Regions from separate parts of the Homo sapiens genome. Here all the other regions are linked to region 3. The links come from fine-mapping of genetic effects on gene expression. A gene starts in region 3. Each other region holds a variant in brackets. All regions are shown on one strand. Distances are between the middles of the regions.

Region 1 (5,414 bases), 29 kb before region 3:
GCAATAGGAAATGCTCAGCTCTGTTAGAATCCTGTGGGACCACGATAAACATGGTCCATCCTTCACGGAATCCTGGTTAGGCTGTGCAGTGATGAGGTTAAGTGGTAAGGGGGAAGGGAGAAGGTTAAAGGATAATGGACGTTTTTTTCTTTTATCACTTTCAAATTTTCCTGTAATGAGATGATGGATGGGTGAAAGGGAAAGAAATTAATCTTTAATGAGTTTTCTACCTGCAGGCACTCCATGTTCATTAACTCGCTTGATCCCATTAGGGAGATGCTATTATCCCATTTGTGGCTCAGAGAGGTTAGGTCACTCTCCCAGGGTCACACAGCAGGAGCAGGGCTAGGAGGGGCATGAGAGCTGGATCACAGCCAGAATTTGGGCCTCTCTAGATCGGGGAGGAACAAAGGGGAAAGTACCCAGAAGGTTCAATAAGACTCTCTCGCTGCACGCCATGCCCCAGCCCCAGGGTTGGGCTGGGCGGGTGCCCTTCTCTAGCCATTAGGTTACACAGCCTCACTCCTCACTGGACCAAGCTCAGCCCACTGGGTGCCTTGACTCACGACCTTCCCCCACTGTCTGCAGATCCTTCCTCCTCCTCCTCTTCTCATTTTCAAACTCCACCCACTGCCCTGCCCCCATTATCAAGGCTGAGCTCATTCACGCTTCTTCCAGGAAGTCTTCCCTGATTGCCCACGCATGGTAATGAGCCCTTCCCTCCCCCGGATAACCACAGCCTCCTCACTGGTATCCCCACCTGGCTCTTAACCCTACAATCCGTTCTCTGCACAGTGGCCCAAGGGATGTGAACAAGGTCCCATCACTCTTCCATTGGTATCCTCCAGCCGCTCCCACCATCCTTTTTTTGTTTTGTTTTTGAGTCAGGGTCTCGCTGGGTCACCCAGGTTGGAGTGCAGTGGTGTGATCAAAACTCACCGCAGCCTCGACCTCCTGGGCTCAAGCGGATCTCCTACTTCAGGCTGCCAAGTAACTGGAACCACAGGTATACACCACCGTGCCTAATTTTTTTTTTAAGTAGAGATGAGAGGTCTTGCTGTGTTGCTCAGGCTGGACTCAAACTCTACTGCTCAAGCGATCCTCCTGCCTCAGCCTCCCAAAGTGCTGGGATTACAGGCTTGAGTCACTGTGCCCGGCCCCCACTGCTCTTTTTCCTTTTTCTTTCTTTTTTTTTTTTTTTTTTTTTGAGATGGAATCTCACTCTATTGCCCAGGCTGGAGTGCAGTGGCGCAATCTCAGTTCACTGCAAACTCCGCCTCCCGGGTTCAAGCAATTCTCCTGCCTCAGCCTCTCGAGTAGCTGGGATTACAGCTAATTTTTGTATTTTTAGTAGAGACAGGGTTTCATCATGTTGGCCAGGCTGGTCTCCTAACCTCAAGTGATCCTCCCGCCTCAGCCTCCCAAAGAGCTGGGATTACAAACTTGAGTCACTGTGCCCAGCCCCCACCACTCTTAAAACAAACCCAAACCCTGTGTCCTTCAGATCTGTCCTGGCTGCCCTCCCTAACCTCTTTTCACACTCCTCTCCATCCAGACTTTTCTTCTTTCTCTCTCTCTTTTTTTTTTAGGGTCTCACTCTGTCACTCAGGCTGGAGTGCAGCGGTGTGATCATGGCTCACTGCAGCCTCCAACCCCTGGGCTCAAGCAATCCTCCTGCCTCACCCTCCTGAGTACTTGGGACTACAGGCACACACTACCATGCCTGGCTAATTAAAAAAATTTTTTTTGTAGAGCTGGGGTCTCACTATGTTCCCCAGGCTGGTCTGGAACTCCTAGGCTCAAGTGATCCTCTGGCCTCAGCCTCCCAAAGTGCTGGATTACAGGCGTGAGCCACCATGCTGGCTTCTCTTTCTTTCTTTATTTTATTTTATTTTTTGACAGAGTCTTGTTCTGTTGCCCAGGCTGGAGTACAGTGGCATGAGCTCGGCTCACTGTAGCCTCCGCCTCCTAAGTCCAACCGATTCTCATGCCTCGGCCTCCCATGTAGCTAGGATTACAGGTGCCACCACATCCCGCTAATTTTTGTATTTTTAGTAGAGACGGGGTTTCACCATGTTGGCCAGGCTGGTCTCGAACTCCTGACCTAGGTGATCCTCCAGTGTTGGCCTCCCATAGTGCTGGGATTACAGGCATGAGCCACCGTCCCCGGCCTTTTTCTTTCTTAACAAATCAAATTCATTCCAGCCTCAGGGCCTTTGCATCACCCATTCCCTCCACGTGGAACACCTCTTCCCCACCCCACCTCATCCCCCGAATTTTCTCTTGTCTGGCTTCTCACTGCTGGAGAGGATTTGCCACCCTAGAGCAGAGCCTGGGCCTTCACAAGGCTGCACTGGGCAGGCCTTTCCCATGGGCTTCTGCCGACGGGCCTCACCCTGCAGCTTCCTCGCCCTTTCACGCTGCCCATTTGGCTCTGCCAGGGACCCTGTCCTGCCAACTGCCCATGATTTTGGCTCAAACTTTCCTTGACCCCCTTCCCCAGGACCCAGGTTGTCCAGTCTGGCCCCAGCTGTGTTTGTCTCTCCAAACTTTGTACCAATCAGATAAGATGGGCAGTGACCTATCCTGCTGGCTGGAGTATCATCAAAGCCAGGCTTTGTGCACAAAGATGTTCATCACAGCATCATTTATCAAAGTGATAAGTAACAAACGATCGTCATTTTTTTTTTAAATGGAGTTTCACTCTTGTAGCCCAGGCTGGAGTGCAGTGGTGTGATCTCGGCTCACTGCAACCTCCTCCTCTTGAGTTCAAACGATTTTCCTGCCTTAGCCTCCCAAGTAGC[T/C]GGGACTATAGGCGCCCGCCACCATGCCCGACTAATTTTTGTATTTTTAGCAGAGACAGGGTTTTCCCATGTTGCCCAGGCTGGTCTTGAACTCCTGACCTCAAGTGATCCTTCCACCTCGGCCTCCCAAAGTGCTGAGATTACAGGCATGAGCCTCCATGCCCAGCTCAATTACAGTTTTTTAAACTGCAGAGAATAGGTAAGAAATTGCTGCTAGTTCCTTCCATCATACTCATCTTGGTTTAAACCCTCCCGTAGCTCTCATTATTAGGATGAAAATGAAACTCCCCGCACACCTCCAAGTCACCCAGGTCCACCTGCATTGCAGCAGACTGCCCCAGCCACCCCCACGCTCTCTCCCTCTTCTGTACGCATGACGCTCCTTTCTGCCTCTGAGCATTTGCATGTGCTGTTCCCTCTACTTGGAATACTCTTCCCTCTTTTTTTTTTTATTTTTGAGACAGAGTCTCACTCTGTTGCCCAGGCGATTCTCCTCTCTCAGCCTCTCGAGTAGCTGGGATTACAGGCACCTGCCACCACGCCTGGCTAATTTTTGTATTTTTAGTAGAGATGGGGTTTCACCAAGTTGGCCAGGCTGGTTTCGGTCTCGAACTCTTGACCTCCAGTGATCCAGCCGCCTCAGCCTCCCAAAGTGCTGGGATTACAGGCGTGAGCCACCGTACCTGAACCTTTTCCTCTTCAGCTAGTGAATCACCTATTCACCCTCCAGACCTCAGCGCCCATGTCCCCTCCCTGGGGAAACCTCTGCCAACCTCCCAGTGTTGATCAGGCCCCATTACAGGAGCTCATGACACTCAGCGTCCCCCATCAGATTGGTCACAGAGTGGCCTGTGCTCCTGGGGCTCTTCCAGAAGAACACTCATCCCATGTAGCCAGTCCCCTCACCCCCCATCCTTGGTGTGCCACGTACCTTCCTTGGAGCTAGCGGCCACCGCCGCCGAGGATGAAGCTGACCCAGTAGATGTCCGGCCCATGGGGCTGGAGTGCTTCCCCCCACGGCCGGGGGGCTTCAGGCCGCTGGGCTTCTGCATGGCGGTGCCACTGGGCAGGTGGACAAGGGTGAGTGCTGGTCACGTCCTCTCTGCCATCTTCACTCACCTGCGGGCAGAGACAGGAGAGATCACATCATCACTTCCCAATGGCCCCCAGACCCTCAAGGGCCATCAAGCAACACACATCCCTCCTGAGGTGGGCTGGACGAGGCAACACCCGATTTAACCTATCAGCTCACTGCTCCCGTTGCCGCACAGGCCAGATTCCCGCTCTCAGACTCACCATCCCAGCACGCACCCCCTCTACTGCATGGGCAGGACAAACACACAGAGAGGCTATTGCCTTACCCTCTTATATCCTGGTGTGCAGTTACCTGCCTCAACTCCACACCAGGCCGTCATCTAGCCATGACCTCTGCCTGCCTTCCCACCATTAAAGCTTTGTGTCTTTATTTATTTGGTTGCAGAAATTTATTACAATTGAAAGATGTTTCATCTTCTATCCCAAGAGCATCCATCAAACTGTTTGCAACAAAGACCACTTTTAGACTGGGTACAGTGGCCTGTCATCCCAGCACTCTGGGAGGCTGAGGCTGGTGGATCGCTTGAGCCCAGGAGTTTGAGGCTGCAGTGAGCTCCAGGGCACTCCAGCCTGGGTGACAGAGTAAAACCTTTTCAAAGCGTGAGCTGCATGCTGACTATGGTCATTAAAAGCCCTAAAAGGGGCCAGGTGCAGTGGCTGATGCCTGTAATCCCAGCACTTTGGGAGGCTGAGGCGAGTGGATCACTTGAGGTCAGGAGTTCAAGACCAGGCTGGCCAACATGGTGAAACCCTGTGTCTACTAAAAATACAAAAATTAGCCAGGCTTAGTAGCACATGCCTGTAGTCCCAGCTACTCGGGAGGTTGAGGCACAAGAATCACTTGAACCCAGGAGGCGGTGGTTGCAGTAAGCCGAGGTCACGCTGCTGCACTCCAGCCTGGACAACAGAGTGAGACTCTTGTCTCAAAAGAAAAAAAAAAAAAGCCCTAAAAGGGCTGGGGGCAGTGGCTCACACCTGTAATCCTAACACTTTGGGAGGCCAAGGTGGGAGGATTGCTTGAGGCCAGGAGTTCAAAACCAGCCTTGGTAGCGTAGCAAGACTTTGTCGCTACAGAAAATAAAAAATAAAAAATTAGCCAGGCGTGGTGGCGCATGCCTGTAGTCCCAGCTACTTGTGGGGCAAAGGTGGGAGGATTTTTTGAGCCTGAGAGGCCAAGGCTGCAGTGAGCTATGACGGCACCACTGCACTCCAGCCTGGGTGACAGAGCAAGACTCTGTCTCAAAACAAAAACAAAAACAAAAACAAAAAAATGCAGTCGTAAAATAGAACAAGATGATGTCCTTTGCAGGGACATGGATGGAGTTGGAAGCCATTATCCTCAGCAAACTAACACAGGAAAAGAAAACCAAACACCACATGTTCTCACTTGTAAGTCGGAGCTGGACAATGAGAACACATGGACACAGGGAGGGGAACAACACAATGGGGCCTGTTGTGGGGGCGGGGGGAGGGAGAGCATCAGGAAAAATAGCTGATGCATGCTGGGCTTAATAC
Region 2 (5,467 bases), 54 kb after region 3:
CCTGCTGGAGTAGCCTGACCCCTTGTTTAGGGTGTCAGGCTGAGGCTGGGGGACCTTTTGTAGGGAAGGCCAGTTCCTACTCCGGGGTGGAGGTGGGAATTGGCCCAAAAGACCTCCCAGTTCTAAAGTGAATTCCAAGTGGTTCTGGGCAACTGACCCCCCAAGTGATCTAAGACAGATGACTTGTGACTTTAAAGCTGTCCCCAAGTGAGCATCCTTCACAGGCCCTTGGTTGCTCTCTTGTTCATCTGTCTTATGTTTGGGAAATTTATCTTCCTGGTGCCGGAAGCACTTCTCTTTGATGGTGAGAGGAGCATTCCCCAAACTCATCCTGGTTGCTGGAGAATTTGATGAAAACAACAGGTTGAGAAGTTTTACCCATAGATTGCCTGGAAGTCGGTCTGTTGGGGCCTCCCCGCTCACATTGTCCCTTCTAGCCCCTGACCGCCTTTCCTTTCCCTTTGGCCAGGTCTGTGACGAGCCCCACCCACTGCTGGTAAAGGAGATGATCCAGCACTGTGTGAATGCCAACATTGACGAAGCCTACAAGGTTGGCCTCCTTCCCCCCGTCCTGGCAGAGGAACCGCTCACTTCTTGGGCAGAGGAGAGCGGGAGCCCTTCTGGTACCAGGGACATTATACACATCACTCCATTCATTCTTGAAATCTTACTTGGGAGACTGAGGCAGGAGGATTTGTTGAGCCTTGGAGGTCAAGGCTGCAGTGAGCTGTGATTGCGCCACTGTACCCCAGCCTGGGTGATGGTGAGACCCTGTCTCAGGAAAAAAAAAAAATTATTAATATCATGCTATGTGTTAATCTGTCTAGGAACTGGAAAAAAAAAATTATGCTAGGAGTTGGGTGCACTTTACTGATGAGAAAACTGATTCAGAGGCTGAATTCCTTGTCCTAAATCACTGTGTTTGTTTATTTATTTATTTATTTATTTATGTAGAAACAGGGTCTTACTCTGTTGCCCAGGCCGGAATGCACTGGCGCGGTCACAGCTCACTGTAGCCTCTACCTCTCAGGCTCAGGCGATCCTCCCACCTCAGCCTCCCAAGTAGCTGGGACTACAGGCACATGTCACTATGCCCAGCCCTAAGTCATGGTTTAAAAGCAGTAGAACTAGAATTCAAAATGGTGTTTTTCTCCTGTAATTATATCCTCTGCAGGAGAAATTTGTCAGCCAAAGTCAGGAGGAAAGACCAGCCTAGCTCCTTCTCCAGGGAAGCCATCTTCTCTCCAGTTAAGGGGAAGTGTCCCCATCCATTCTCATAGGCACAGGCATTCTGGGATCCAGCAGCCCCCAGCTAGCCAGGAGAGGAGGGAGCAGGAAGATTCTAGCCTCACAATGGGACTGAGTGCTGTGAGCAGATTCCAGCAGATGTGGCTGGGGTTCAGGCGACCTCAAGCCACATGGGTGTGGTGTGGTTGGTGTGGTTCAAGGTCATTGATCCAGTCATGGTTTCCCTCTGCCTACCCCCTAACAAACTAGGTTGGAAGTTGACTGGGTTTAGGGCATAGTTCCACCCAATGTGAAACCGGAGTGCAAGGCGGGGAGACTGAGCAGAGACCCAGGCCCAGGGTCCCTGAGTAGACCTGAAGAAAGCCTTCAGATTTGTGGGCACAGAGCTTCTCTGCCTCCTGAATTCACCCCAAGATGCCAAAACAAAGGCAAAAAGGCCTGCCTCCAGACGCTGCAGCCTGGGTGGGGCAGGGTGGGTGGGAAGCAGGAGGCTGGGATTACCCAGTCAGGGTGTGCTCCAGGCTCGTCCTGCAGAGGTTGCATTGGGACTGCAGCTGGATGAAGCTAGCAGATGAATGGTCTGCTTTTTCCACTTTGCTATACCTAGTCATCAGATTAATAAAGCATTTTAAGAGCTCCGGATCAAGAGATTACATGGGTGTGGTAGTAGACCATTTTGCAACACAGCTTAACACATTTGCGATAGGCTGGGCTCAGTGGCTCATGCCTGTAATCCCAGCACTTTTGGAGGTCGAGGCAGGAGGATTGCTTGAGGCCGGGAACTTGGGACCAGCCTGGGCAATATAGCAAGACTCTTATCTTTATATTACTGAAAAAAAAATATTTAAGCAAAACAACAATACATTTGCAATGTTATCTCTCTATCTGCCATGAAAATCAGTTAAGGTACCCCCATGTGACCTGAAGGGTGGGCCCCACCAGCTGTGGTGAGTCTCAAAATCACATGTCTTCTTACAGTTTAAAGTGGTAAGCAGCCTTTTCTGTCTCCTTTGTCTAGATTCTTGCTCACTTGTGGCATCTGGGCTACTCACCAGAAGATATCATTGGCAACATCTTTCGAGTGTGTAAAACTTTCCAAATGGCAGAATACCTGAAACTGGAGTTTATCAAGGTCGGTGAGAATGTAGAAATGCCTCTGTCCTCAAGA[A/G]TGTGGCCCATAGTGGCCGGGTGCTGTGGGCCACACCTGTAATCCCAGCACTTTGGGAGGCCGAGGTGGGCAGATCACCTGAGGTCAGGAGTTCGAGACCAGCCTGGCCAACGTAGTGAAAGCCTCTGTCTACTAAAAATACAAAAATTAGCTGGGCATGGCTGGGCGTGGTGGCTCATGCCTGTAATCCCAGCACTTTGGGAGGCCGAGGTGGGCGGATCACCTGAGGTCAGGAGTTTGAGACCAGCCTGGCCAACATGGCAAAGCCCCATCTCTACTAAAAATACAAAACTTAGCTGGGTGTGGTGGCAAGCGCCTATAATCCCAGCTACTTGGGAGGCTGAGGGAGGAGGATCGCTTGAACCTGGGAGGTGGAGGTTGCAGTGAGCCAAGATCGCACCACTGCACTCCAGCCTGGGCAGCAGAGCGAGACTGTCTCAAAACAAAAAAAAAAGACTGTGGGCCCTGGCTTCGCTTTCTCTGCTCACAGGCCTGGCATCTAGAAGGTGCTCAGTGTTTCCCAACTGCAGTGGGAGGGAGGCTGTGTCTTAGTTCCTTTGAGTTACTATAAAGGAATACCAGAGACTGGGTAATGTAGAAAGAAAAGAGGTTGATTTGGCTCACAGTTCTGCAGGCTGTACATGTAGCATGATGCCAGCATCTGCTTCTAGGGAGGGGTTCAGGCTGCTTCTGCTCATGTTGGAAGGGGAAGTGGGAGCCTGTGCATGCAGAGACCACCTGTTGAGAACGGAGGGAGGTGCCAGGCTCATTTGAACAGCCAGCTCTCCAGGGACCTAATTGATCCAGAACTCACTCACTACCTTGGGGTGGGCACCAAGCCATTCACGTGGGATCTTCCTCATGACCCAAACATCCCCACATTGGGGACCAAATTCCAAATGAGATTGGAAGGGGACAGACGTCCAAACTAGATCAACGTGGCTGATTGTCCTGAGGACCAAGTTTGTTTCACACAGTTCTGATTTTCTTCATTCAAGGCTCTCTTGTGTATTGACTGATTGATTGATTTTTCAAGGTTAGATTAATTGAGGTTTAATTTACATAGAGTAAAATTCAGCCTGTTAGGTACAGGACAAACGCACTCAGTCATGCAAACACTATCACCATCAGGATGCAGAATCTGTCATCCCAGAACAACTCATGTGTCCCTTTGAAGCCAGCCCCCTCCCCGACTACCACTTGGAAACTACCGATGTAGTTTCTGTTTCATGGGATACAGTTTTCCAGAATATCATATAAATGGGATCATGTAGAACTTAGCCTTGTGAGTTTGGCTTCTTTCTTTCACTGTAGCAGAAATGCCTTTCAGATGTGTCCACGCTGGTACTTCTATCCATGAGTCAGTCCGTGTTATCACTGAGAAGTAATCCATCCTGTGCGTGTACCACAGTTTGCTTATCTGTCCATCAGCTGGAGGACATTTGGGTTTACAGATTGTGGTGACTGTGAATAAAGCCAGTGTAAACATTTGCATATATGGATTAGTGTGAATGCAAATGTTAAGTTTTTCTTTTTCCCAAGTAAGTTCCCAGGGGTGAAATTGCCTGGGAAAATGATAAGTGTATGTTTTACTCGATAAGGAACTGCCAAACGGTTTTCCGAAGTGGCTGCAGCACGTGCATTCCCACCAGCATTCCGGAGGATCCTCAACCTAGCCACCACATGGAGTGCTCAGTTTGGTTTTTAAGCCATTCTAATAGGTGTGTAATGACCGGATGCAGTGGCTTACACCTGTAATCCCAGCTACTCGGGCGGCTGAGGGAGGAGGATCGCTTGAACCCAGGAGGTGGAGGTTGCAGTGAGCTGAGATCACACCCCTGCACTACAGCTTGGGCGACAAGAGTGAGACTCCATCTTAAAAAAAAAAAAAAAAAAAAAACCAATAACAACAACAACAAAATAACCTAATAGGCATGTGATGAGATCTCATTGTGCCTTTAATTTGCATTTCCCTAATTACTATGCTGAACATTTAATCATGTGCTCGTTTGCCATCCAGAATCTTCTTTGATGAAACATCTGTTCATATATACCCATTTTTTAAAATTTTTACATTTTTTATTTTAATTGTACTGTATTTTTTGTTTAGAGATCATGTTAAGACCGGCCAATTTTTATATTTTTGGTGGAGACGGGGTGTCCCCGTGTTGCCAAGGCTGGTCTTGAACTCCCGGGCTCAAGTGATCCTCCCGCCTCGGCCTCCCAAAGTGCTAGAATTACAGGTGTGAGCCACTGCGCCTGGCCTACCTTTTTTATGTTTTTGAGAGACAGGGTCTTGCTCTGTCACCCAGGCTGGAGTGCAGTGGTGCGATCATAGTTCACTGCAGCCTCAACCTTCCATGCTCAAGCAATCCTCCCACCTCAGGCTCCCGAGTAGCTGGGACTGCAGGCATGTGCCACTACACTTGGGTCATTTTTATTTTCTTTTTTTCGTAGAGTTTGGGTGTTGCTATGTTGCCCAGGCCCAACTCTGGGCAAGTGATCCTCCTGCCTCAGCCTCCCAGAATGCTGGGATTACAGGTGTGAGCTACTGCTCCAGGTCTAAATCTACCCATTTTTTAATTGGGTTGTTTGATTTTTATTACTGAATTTATTTACTTATTTATTTTTGAGATGGAGTCTTGCTCTGTTGCCCAGGCTGGAGTGCAGTGGCACTATCTCAGCTCACTGCAACCTTCGCCTCCCAGGTTTAAGTGATTCTCCTGCCTCAGCCTCCCGAGTAGCTGGGATTACAGGCGTGCGCCACCATACCTGGCTAATTTTTGTATTTTTAGTAGAGATGGGGTTTTACCATGTTGGTCAGGCTGATCTCGAACTCCTGGGCTCGTGATCCACCTGCCTTGACCTCCCAAAGTACTGGGATTACAGGCATGAGCCACCACGCCTGGACTTTATTACTGAATTTTTGAGAATTCTTTATACAGTCTGGATGCAAGTTCTTTATCAGATATATAAATATTTTCCTCTAGCCTGGCTTTCCGTGCCACCACCCCGCCCCCCCTCGCCCCACCCATTTTCTTAACAGTTTCT
Region 3 (5,479 bases):
GGTCAGGAGTTCAAAACCAGCCTGGCCAACATGGTGAAACCCCGTCTCTACTAAAAATACTAAAATTAGCCGGACATGGTGGCACATGCCTGTAATCCCAACTACTTGGGAGGCTGAGGCAGAATTGCTTGAACCCAGGAGGCAGAGGTTACAGTGAGCCAAGATCGCGCCATTGCACTCAAGTCTGGGCAACAAGAGTGAAACTCCATTTCAAAAAAAAAAAAAAAAAAGAGGGCAGGATCAACTGTCAGGGTGGCAGGGCCAGGAGGGGAGGCCAAGAGGGAACTGGGGGACCACACGTGGGCAGGCCTGCCAGGTGGGGAGCAGGGACAACTGGGGCTGTGGGGAGATGGCCTTTCTATCACCAAGGGAGGCAGGACCAGGGAGGAGGCTGCAGTGAGGCAGAGAACAGCAGGTGCCGGGTCAGGGCTAACCAGCAAGGGTGCTGAAGAAGGACAAACAGCCTGGAAGGGGCACGAGCCTCCTCTCCCTGAAACGTGTGTGAGTGGGGCCAGGAAGCCACTCTGTACGGCAGCAACAACACTTATAGGACATCTACTCTGTCACAGGGCACACAGTTCTCCTAACAACCCTAAAAGCCAGATACCATAAGGATCCCAATTTTACAGATGAGGATGTCGAGGCAGAGAGAGATGCAATGTGCAAGGTCACATAGCTAGGGAGTGGCAGAGCTGGGATTTGAACCCGGGCTGTTAAGCTCCAGCATCTGAACTCTTCACCGCCAAGGTAGACAGCAGATGCCGGAAAGCGATTACTGCTCCTTGGAGTAAATTCCCCCTGCTGGGACTTTGGGCTCTGAGTGCAGAATTCCAGGCACCACCTTCCCAGCCTGCACGGTGCTGAGGGCTGGAGTTTGCAGGTGCACACAGGTGTGTGTGGAGGAGGCTCCTCCCAGGCGCCTCCACCTGCCTCTTCTGCCTTTGGAGCCCCTCTCCATCTCCACCGCCTCCACCTGTCCTGAAGCCAGAATCCCATCATTCCCCCGCAAGGCACTGCAGACAAGAATGCATCCTGTGCTCAACGCAGGTCTAAGTTCCTTAAATCCTAAGCTGTTTCTCTAACCCAATAGCCTCCTTTTCTGACTCCAAGCCCTTATTCACGCTATTTCTCCTGCACGAAACCCCCTTCAGGCAACCTGGCAGCAAACTTCTGCAAGATGCTCTATGAAGCTTCCTGGTCTGCCCCATCCTCCAGGGGACCCCCTCTATGCCCCCAGCTTCCCCACTAATGCACTCATCAACCCCCGGGGCTGCACTTTTTGGGGACACCGAGGCTGCTGTCCTGTGGACCAGCCAGCCCCTAGAAGTGCCAGGCCAGGTAACAGCAGCTGAATGAAGGGCTTATTGTTTACATTTACAACCGAAAGGGAAGAGGCTTCTGAAGCACACACGTGGTGCTCCCCGCACCCTCCTCCTCCTCTGCCCACAGCCCTAGGCCACCCCACCCACCTCCCTCAGGCATCGCGCAAGAGTGACGGCAGACCCCCTCATCCCAGACCCCCACTTCTCACCCAGAAGTGAGAGGAGGGGTCTCAGACGTTGGGGGACACACTGCTGGGTGGGTGATTTCCCCCCAAGGTGCTCCCTCTGCCCGTCCTTCCCAGGGTGGGGCTGGGGCCTGCGTGGCAGTGCCCAGTGGGCACCCGCTCGGCCCAAGCTCTGCCTGAAAGGTCCAAACGGGCGGGCCCTGAAGGTTCAGCCAAGCATCCTCCGCGGCCGCCGCCCCTCCCCGGGAGGAGGGCAGAAAATCTGCTGCCTCACCAGCCACCAGCGCCAGCTTGGGGGGACACCCCCTGAGAGAAGCCGCCCGCCTCAATCTCCTCCTACCCCACCTCAGCCAAGCACTTCAACCAAGTTTTGCAAAGGCCATCGGCCAGGCGACCCCAGAGGGTGTAGCAGGGAGGAGAGGGGGGCAGTCCCTGTTCTCCCAGACCCCAGGTTTGGAGATGGGGGCTGCATGGCCGCGCCCACCAGGCTGTGCTCCCCAGGCTCTGTGAGCCCAGAGAGCCCTGCGGCGCGTCCAGCCGTCTTGCTCTGCCCTTGGAAGGGGGTACGGGCGACCCTCCAACAGAAGGGCCAAACCCCCGTCCGAGGGTAGGGACCCCGATGAGGCTGGTGATGCCTTCAACAGGGGGACCCGCAGCCCGGGAATAGCCCCCAACCCTGGCACCCCAAGCAGTGCCCCCTCCTCTCCTACAAGCAACGGGGAAGTTGGGGCACACCCCAGCCAGCTCCCGCCCACGCCCACCGGCCGGCCTCGAACCCTCCCGCCCCCGCCCACGCCCCGACAATGCCTCCGGGCCCGCAGCCCCGCTTTCGGCCAGGCCGCCGCCCCCCGCATCTCTCCGTCCTTTGTTGCCCGCGCGACCCCCTCCCTCGGCCCCTCCAGCAGCCCCTACCTTCGTCCTTCCAGCATCAGGCTAAGCGGCGGGAGGCCCGGAGAGCCCCGGCCTCCTCCTCTCGGGCCCGGGCGCGCTGGGGGGCGAGGATGCTGCGGCCCCTCCCTGCGCGGCGCTGCCCACCGGCTGCACCCCCTCCTGGCGCCGGGGATCCCCGCGATAGGTGCTCAGGGCCCGGGCCTCGCGCCACGTCTCTGGGAAGGCGGGAGGCGCGCACCGAGGCCGCCCAGCAGCCGCCTGCGCGCCCCGCGGCCGAGCCGAGCTGAGCGCCCGCGGAGCCAGCGGAGCCAGCGGAGCCAGCGGCCCGGCTCCGGGAGGGAACAAAAGGGGCCGGCGCAGGGGCGGGCGCGGGAGGGCGGGGCCTGGGGCGGGCGGGAGGGGGGGGCGGGTCAGGCGCGCGTGGGCGGCCTCGCGGTTTTCAGGCCTCAGTGCCTCGCGGAAAGCAGGCGGGCGGGCGGAAAACGCGGAGCAACCTCTTCCCCCTCTCCCCGCTCCATCTCCTTCCCTTCCCAGGCCGCAGCTGTCCTTTGTGGGGCGTCCAGGGTTCGCCCACATCCACCTCCGCGCTGGGCACCTGGTGGTGCTTACATCGCGTTTGGTGAAACGCATCCTCCAGCCATGCTATGCTTGCAAAGATGTCTCTGGTCATTGGGAAGGACGGCAGCTTGGGAAGGTGAGATGCTGTTGGCGCTGGACAGAAAGGATGAGGAGGGGGACAGTGCAGCTGGGGCGAAAACTTCAGGTCTGTGTTGGGGCCAGCGTGGGTGGGGAACTGTGGCACAGGGTCTCATGGTTATCAAGGATCTCATAGCCTGGGCAGTGTCTCACGCCTGTAATCCCAGCACTTCAGGAAGCCAAGGCGTGCAGATCGCCTGAGGCCAAGAGTCCGAGAACAACCTGGGCAACGTAACCTTCGTCTCTACAAAAAATACAAAAATTAGCTGGGCGCGCGCCTGCGGTCCCAGCTACTGGGGAGGCTGGGGTGGGAGGATCGCTGGAGCCCAGGAGGTCGAGGCTGCAGTGAGTCATGATCAAGCCACGGCCCTTCAGCCTGGGTGACAGAGCGAGACTCCGTCCCAAAAGAAAAAAAAAAAAGGATCTCATGGTGATCAGCTTCCAAGATACAAATGAACCCTCCCCAGGACAGGATGCATGTACTGCTATTTCAGAGGAGTTGAGGCAGCTGCCAGGTCCCCTCCTGCGTGGAGAGGCAGATGCCAAGTGACAGCTCAGGAACTAAACAGTGACCAAGCCCCAGCCCCTGTCCATGCCCAGGCTGCGGTTGGCTTCTGTGGCTTGGTTTCCCTCTGTCCCCCCTTGATAAGCTCGCCTGGATGCCTTTGACCTAGCTGGCCGTTCTACCAGTCCTGCCCTGCCCCCTTTCTCTGTTTGACAAATCATATTCCCCCTTCAAAGCACAGCTTAAATGTCCCTGCTTTTCCCTTGAGTGCAGGAATGTGGGTGTTGGGGGAGGTTGTGGTCTGTATGGTGAGACCACTGTTCTGCGGGAGAGAAGTGCCACATACGATCTTGTTCCTATCCCCTAAGGGACCCAGTGCAATGCTTGGCAGAGGGTAGACATCCAGTAATATTTGTTGAATGAATGAATGAACTTACTAAGTTAACATTACCACCCCTCAACTGTCTTGGTATCCATAATCTTTGAGAAGTGAGTGAACCTTTTTTTAGAGAAGGGGTCTCACTCTGTCACCCAGGCTGGAGTGCAGTGGTGTGATTACAGCTCACTGCAGCCTCAAACTCCCAGGCTCAAATGATCCTCCTGCCTCAGCCTCCAGAGTAGCTGGGACTACGGGCATGCACCATGCCCGGCTAATTTTTTGTGTTTTTTATAGAGATGGGGTCTCATTATGTTGGGGTCCAGGCTGGTCTTAAACTCTTGGCTTCAGATGATCTTCCCACCTCAGCCTCCCAAAGTGCTGGGATTACAGCTGTGAGCCACCGTGCCTGGCCTAAACATTTTGACCTCAGTTTCCCCATCTGTAAATTGGGGAGAGTGTTTCAATTCAGTTCAGCGAACATGCAATGCTGTAATGATGGAGGCTGGGCATGGGGTCAGCCCTGAGGGGGTGCCCAGTTGGTGTGGAGAGCCAGACTTGGAGACTAATAAGGGAGGAGGTTCAGAGTGAACTCCAGAAAGACTGGGCTTCTGTAGGAGGTGTGAACCCATAGGGAGGGAGGGGACTCAGGGTGGAGAGGGCAGTGTTCAGGAAACAGGGAGCTAATTGTTCCTTGTGGCTGGGATGCATAACCTGTATATCAACAGTTATAAACCAGCCAGGCACAGTGGCTCACACCTGTAATCCCAGCACTTTAGGAGGTGGTGGCGGGCAGATAACCTGAGGTCAGGAGTGCGAGACCAGCCTGGCCAACGTGATGAAACCCCATCTCTACAGAAGATGCAAAAAATAGCTGGGTGTGGTGGTACATGCCTGTAATCCCAGCTACTCGGGAGGGTGAAGCTTGAGAATGGCTTGAACCCAGAAGGCGAAGGTTGCAGTGAGTGGAGATCATACCACTACACTCCAGCCTGGGCAACAGAAGGGATGGGATGGGATGGGACGGGACGGGACGGGATGGGGCAGGGATTTGCCAAGGTGACATGGGTCTTGCTGGGATGTACCTGAGCTCACCAGCCCCTGCCCAGCAGATCTAGCCTCCCACATGTGCCTCAGGAGGTAGGCAGGGGCCCCCAACCTTCACAGGTACTGCCTCCCTCACTGATGGCCCCCAGTATTATTCAGAGCAACAGCCTGCGGTCAACAGACCTTACCTGGCCGCTGGTGAGTGGAGCTTCAAAGAGCAAGTCACCTGAGAGGGACACCTTTTGTTCTTGCTCCAGATGAGAGAAGACAGGCTTCTGTCTTGTTACAGTTTGCATTTGGGGGGCCGGGCACAGTGGCTCACACCTGTAATCCCAGCACTTTGGGAGGCCAAGGCGGGCGGATCACAAGGTCAGGAGTTCGAGACCAGCCTGGCCAACATGGTGAAACTCCGTCTCTACTTAAAATACAAAAAATTAGCCGGGCATGGTGGCACACA
Region 4 (5,450 bases), 62 kb after region 3:
TCAAGTGATTTTCCTGCCTCAGCCTCCCAAGTAGTTGAGACTACAGGCATGCACCACCAGGCCCGGCTAATTTTTATATTTTTATAAAAGGTTTTTTACCTGAAGCAGGAGAAAGGAGACACAGGATAATCACTGCTTTTCAACTAAAATGGTTTTATTGAGATGTTTTGGTTGGAGGAGATACTTTTTCTGGCAACATTTCTGACTCAAGGTCCCTCTGGGCCCCAGCTCTTCCCATGAGACAGTCACAACACTGTTTAATCAGCTCTGCAGAGGCCAGCCCTGGAGCAGAGGAGGATTCAGGGCCATGGAGGGGACCTACTCTGCCCTGTTCTGGTCACTACTTCTCTAGACTCTCATGCACTATTGTCTGTAGCAAGTGACATTTCCACTGGAAGCACATAAAGATGGCGACAGCCTCATTTCTTCCTGAGTGAACTGAAGCCCAAAGAAAGGGGAGGTCCCACCAAAGGGGAAGAGAGCCAGGGCCCCACCCAACAAGGATGCTGAAATAAACTACATGTAATGCTTTCTAGGAGACAACACAGAAATCTCTACTCTGAAATCCAGAATGTTAAATATGGCTCCCCCTCTATAAGTTAACTGTACAAGCTTATCAATCATTTAAAACCCCAGCAACCAACAATAGCAATTAGGAATCCAAATTCATAGCACAAAAGAACACAGATACCAGTGTTGGACAGTGGTTTTGTTATGGGGACTGGGTGACAGCTTATCCTAAATCCTGCGCATCCGTCCATACCAGGAGCCGGGTTACCCTTGGTACCAGGTGCCTGCCCCACAAAGCCTGGGTCGGGAGAGGGCTTGGTGACGGGCCTGCAGCTCCCGTGAGTAACTGTCTTTTCCCAGGCTGTGCACGCATGGCCAGGTGGTCCTCAGGGTGGCTGGTTCTCCTTCCAGGAGCAACCATGGCAGGGGCTTAAAAGTTGAGTAGCTCTGGGAAATGGTCCTTGGAAGGCAGCGATGGGTCCATGAGCACAGTGGTCCCTCTTTGCCTTGGCTCCTTAAATGAAGAGGAAAGTTTGTAGAAGGAGGTTTGCCTTGATCAGTATTTTGTTCCTGAGAACCATAACCACTGGTTTGGGGACACCATTGAGCCTGCCTCCTGGCTGAGAACAGAAGCCGCACATCAATAACTGGGTTTCTTTTTTTTTTTTTGAGATGGAGTCTCACTCTGTCACCCAGGCTGGAGTGCGGTGGCGCGATCTCGGCTCACTGCAAGCTCCGCCTCTCAGGTTCACGCCATTCTCCTGCCTCAGCCTCCCAAGTAGCTGGGACTACGCCACCACGCCCAGCTAATTTTTTTTTTTTTTTTTTGTATTTTTAGTAGAGACAGGGTTTCACCATGTTAGCCAGGATGGTCTCGATCTCCTGACCTCGTGATCCGCCCACCTCGGCTTCCCAAAGTGCTGGGATTACAGGCGTGAGCCACCACGCCTGGCCCATTTTGTTTGTTTGTTTTTGTGTTTTTGAGACAGAGTCTTGCTCTGTCTCCCAGGCTGGAGTGCAGTGGCGTGATCTCGGCTCACTGCAAGCTCTGCCTCCCGGGTTCACGCCATTCTCTTGCCTCAGCCTCCCAAGTAGCTGGGACTACAGGCGCCTGCCACCATGCCCGGCTAATTTTTTGTATTTTTAGTAGAGACGGGGTTTCACTGTGTTAGCCAGGATGGTCTCGATCTCCTGACCTTGTGATCCGCCCGCCTCAGCCTCCCAAAGTGCTGGGATTACAGGCGTGAGCCACCGCGCCTGGCTTTTTTTTTTTTTTTTTTTTTTTTTTTTTTAAGACGTAGTTGCCCAGGCTGGAGTGCAATGGTGCGATCTTAGCTCACTGCAACCTCCTCCTTCCAGGTTCAAGTGATTCTCGTGCCTCAGCCTCCCGAGTAGCTGGGATTACAGGCACACGCCACCACACCTGGCTAATTTTTGTATTTTTAGTAGAGATGGGGTTTCCCCATGTTGCCCAGGATGGTCTCGAACTCCTGACCTCAGGTGATCAGCCTGCCTCAGCCTCCCAAAGTGCTGGGATTACAGGCGTGAGCCACTGCGCCTGGCCTCTTCTTTTTGTTTTTGTTTTGAGACAGCGTCTTGCTCTGTGGCCCAGGCTGGAGTGCAGTGGTGCAATCACAGCTCACACAGCAGCTCAACCTCCTAGACTCAAGCTATCCTCCCGCCTCAACCTCCGAGTAGCTGGGACTACACGTATGCGCCACTACACCTGGCAAATTTTTGTATATTATGTAGAGACAGCGTTTCACCATGTTGCCTACCCCTGTCTCCACTGCTGCCACCCCTTGCCCAGATGGCACCAGTGCCTGGGTCCTTCCTGGGCTTCCTGTACCCACTCTCCCAGTACCCATTTGTCTGCCCAACAGCCAGAAAAATTGAATTAGAAACATCCAGCCAGTCTTTGTACAAAACCTTCCCATTAGCCAGGCATGGTAGCTCATGCCTGTAATCCCAGCACTTGGGGAGGCTGAGGTGGGCCGATCACTTTAGGTCAGGAGTTTGAGACCAGCCTGGCCAACATGGTGAAACCCCATCTCTACTAAAAATACAAAAATTAGCCAGGTGTTGTGGCGTGTGCCTGTAATCCCAGCTACTCGGGAGGCTGAGGCAAGAGAAACCTGAACCCAGGAGGCAGAGGTTGCAGTGAGCCGAGATCACGCCACTGCACTCCAGCCTGGGTGACAGAGCGAGACTCCCTCTCAAAAAACAAAATAAAATAAAATAAATACAAATTGGCCGGGTGTGGTGGCAGACACCTGTAATCGCAGCTACTCGGGAGGCTGAGGCAGGAGCATCGCTTGAACCCAGGAGGCGGAGTTTGCAGTGAGCCAAGATTGCACCATTGCACTTCAGCCTGGGCGACAGGAACGAAAAAAAAAAAAAAAGAAAAAACAACCTTTCTATCTCCCTCCCTCCCTCCCATCTCATGCAGTAAAACCCCAAGTGCTGGCCCTGCCTGGTCAGCCTCCCCACCAACGGCCTCGACCTCCACTAGTTTCCCCTCACC[T/G]GCTCCTCCCTGGCCCCTGGCTTTGCTCAGACCTGTGGGGCTCACTCCACCCTGGGGCCTCTGTTGTCCCCTCTGCCTGGATGTCCTTCCCCCAGATGGGGTGAGGAAGGGAGCTCTGAAAGGCTTCCCTAGCCGCCTTCCTTAAATTGCAACACTGCGTCTTGCCCACAACCCCACACTACTTCCTGCCCCGCTTCCCTGTTTTGTTTCTCTCTGCCAGACTTACCACCAGTGAACATGCCATGTCTTCTTATCTGTTTTCTTGTTGTTGTTGTTGTTTTGACAGGGTCTCACTCTGTCATCCTGGCTGTACAGTGGTACAATCATAGCTCACTGTAGCCTTGAACTCCTGGGCTCAAGCGATCCTCCTGCCTCAGCCTCCCAAGTAGCTGGGACTACAGGTACACACCACTATGCCCAGCTAATTTTTAAATTTTTTTTTTGAGATGGGGTCTTGCTCTGTTGCCCAGGCTTGAGTGCAGTGGCACGACCACAGCTCACTGCAGCAACCATGGCTCATTGCAACCTTGACCTCCCAGGCTCAAGTGATCTTCCCACCTCAGCCTCCCAAGTCAGTGGGACTCTAGGGCATCCACCACCATGCCTGGCTAATTTTAAATGTTTTTATAGAGGCTGGACATGGTGGCGTGTGCCTGTAATCCCAGCTACTTGGAAGGCTGAGGCACGAGAATCGCTTGAACCCAGGAGGTGGAGGTTGCAGTGAGCCGAGATGGCGCCACTGCACTCCAGCCTGAGTGACAGTGATACTCTGTCTCAAAAAAAAAAAAAAAAAGTTTTTGTAGAGAGAGAGGTCTTGCTATGTTGCCCAGGCTGGCCTCAAACTCAGAGGCTCAAAGGATCCTCCCGCCTCAGCCTCCCGAAGTGCTGGGATTTATAGGCATGACCGCTGTGTCCAGCCCTATCTGTTTTCTCTCTCCTACCAGAATGCAAGTTCTAAGGGGTCAGGGGTTTGCTGTTCTTTATGTTGGTGTTCCCAGCACCTAGAGCAGGACTTGCCCGTAGCAGGGGCCCAGTGGATACTGGTTGAATGAATGACGTGGGGCTCTGCACATTTGGCTCAAACTCCTGCACCTGCCTCTGGGGCTGACTCTTGACCACCCAGGTTCACTGTGGTTTCCACCCTCCAGCCTGCTCGCTGAGATGACGGCCTGGGTCTCCCAGATGGGGACTTTGGGCAGCCTTCAAGGCCCTCTGGGGGTCCATCGTGCTTCCCAAGCAGTAGACCCAGCCTAGGCTTTGATGTCTGATGTCTGACCACTGGGGATTCCATCTCCTCCTCCCCTTACTTCAAGATGTGGCCTTGGGCAGGTGGCTTAACTGCTCTGTGGCTTTGGGTGCTAAGAGATGGTGCACGTGTGAGCGCTTAGCGCCGCACCATCTCACTGGCCTGCGGTGGCTCCTCAGCGCGTCTCAGCCACTGTTACATTTCCCAACGTCCCTGCCTCCTGTCTGTTTCCAGCATTGACCGAGTGCCTGCTGGGCTGAGGCTTTGTGTGCAATGTCTGTTTTTTTATTTATTTATTGAGACGGAGTCTCGCTCTGTCACCCAGGGTTGAGTGCATGTGATCTTAACTCACCGCAACCTCCGCCTTCAGGGTTCAAATGATTCTCCTGCCTCAGCCTCCCAACTAACTGGGACTACAGGCACCCACCACCATGCCTGGCTAATTTTTTGTGTTTTTAGTAGAGATGAAGTTTCACCATGTTGGCCAGGCTGGTCTCGAACTCGTGACCTCAGGTGATCTGCCTGCCTCGGCCTCCCAAAGTGCCGGGATTACAGGCGTGAGCCACCGTGCCCGGCCGTGTGTGCGATGTCTTCTCTGAGAGGTGGGCACCAAGTGAGGAACTAAGTTCTGGGAGGTTGTCACTTGGTCCAAGGTCGCAGCCAGGAGGATGCAGTGGAGTTGGGAGACCCACCCGGTGCCCACTTCTTTGCCCCTGAAGTCACCAGAATTCCCTGCCTGACGCCCCTGGCCAGAACAGAGGAACAGAGTCGCCAAGCTGCCCTCTTGGAGCACCCATGGGTGCACCCTGTAGCCCCCACCATGGCCCCTCCACCCACACTCTCGGCTGTTCCCTTGGATTGGGGGTCCTGCAGCTTGGCAAGACCTCCAATCCTTGGCCCACGGCAGCTGGAGAGCAGGGGCTGTACCTTTCTTCTTGGTCTGCCCTAGGCTTCTGTGGCTGCCACCTCCCCATTCACGTAATCCGGTTCCCCGTCCTCCTCGTCTGGGCTTCCCACCGGGCCAGGGGATGCTTCTCTCTGGAGTTGCCCTGTGGACCAGCGGGCAGACAGGTCATCGAGTGGTTCACATGGAGACACCCATGACTGCTCCCCCAGACTCAGACCCCCAGACTCCACAAAACAGCCCGCGGGAAATGCCACGCCCGACAG

Direction of the effects. Alleles are on the strand shown, and positions count from the first base shown. SD is a standard deviation of normalised expression in the study named. Not every link is listed here.
In carriers of allele T in region 1, the expression in aorta of the gene that starts at base 2,747 in region 3 tends to be higher than with C alone (moderate effect, 0.56 SD a copy in GTEx).

The links. PIP is the estimated chance that this variant, and not a neighbour inherited with it, causes the effect.
Region 1: its variant is the best candidate, but not a certain one, in a credible set for the expression of CLIP2 in aorta (GTEx, PIP 0.78).
Region 2: its variant is the best candidate, but not a certain one, in a credible set for the expression of CLIP2 in whole blood (INTERVAL, PIP 0.89).
Region 4: its variant is the best candidate, but not a certain one, in a credible set for the expression of CLIP2 in T cells (TOPMed, PIP 0.54).

Annotation. Positions count from the first base shown.
Region 1 is chr7:74,315,989-74,321,402 of GRCh38, reverse strand. It overlaps CLIP2 (CAP-Gly domain containing linker protein 2), which reads right to left. Exons shown (of 17, transcript NM_003388.5): 2 at 3,736-3,923. The coding sequence starts at 3,856. Among named protein-coding and RNA genes, the nearest start is that of CLIP2, 29 kb to the right of the region's middle. The variant T/C (reference allele first, on the strand shown) is at 2,805.
Region 2 is chr7:74,232,445-74,237,911 of GRCh38, reverse strand. It overlaps RFC2 (replication factor C subunit 2), which reads left to right. Exons shown (of 11, transcript NM_181471.3): 9 at 470-550; 10 at 2,267-2,380. Among named protein-coding and RNA genes, the nearest start is that of RFC2, 19 kb to the left of the region's middle. The variant A/G (reference allele first, on the strand shown) is at 2,417.
Region 3 is chr7:74,286,675-74,292,153 of GRCh38, reverse strand. CLIP2 (CAP-Gly domain containing linker protein 2) reads right to left here and starts at 2,747. Exons shown (of 17, transcript NM_003388.5): 1 at 2,420-2,747. It overlaps LOC107986742 (a long non-coding RNA gene), which reads left to right and starts at 2,847. Exons shown (of 2, transcript XR_001745024.2): 1 at 2,847-3,092. RefSeq lists enhancers at 1,105-1,748, 1,749-2,393 and silencers at 2,269-2,338, 2,359-2,828.
Region 4 is chr7:74,224,518-74,229,967 of GRCh38, reverse strand. LAT2 (linker for activation of T cells family member 2) reads right to left here. Exons shown (of 14, transcript NM_032464.3): 13 at 5,208-5,329; 14 at 134-1,024. The coding sequence ends at 5,226. Among named protein-coding and RNA genes, the nearest start is that of LAT2, 17 kb to the right of the region's middle. RefSeq lists an enhancer at 324-603. The variant T/G (reference allele first, on the strand shown) is at 3,035.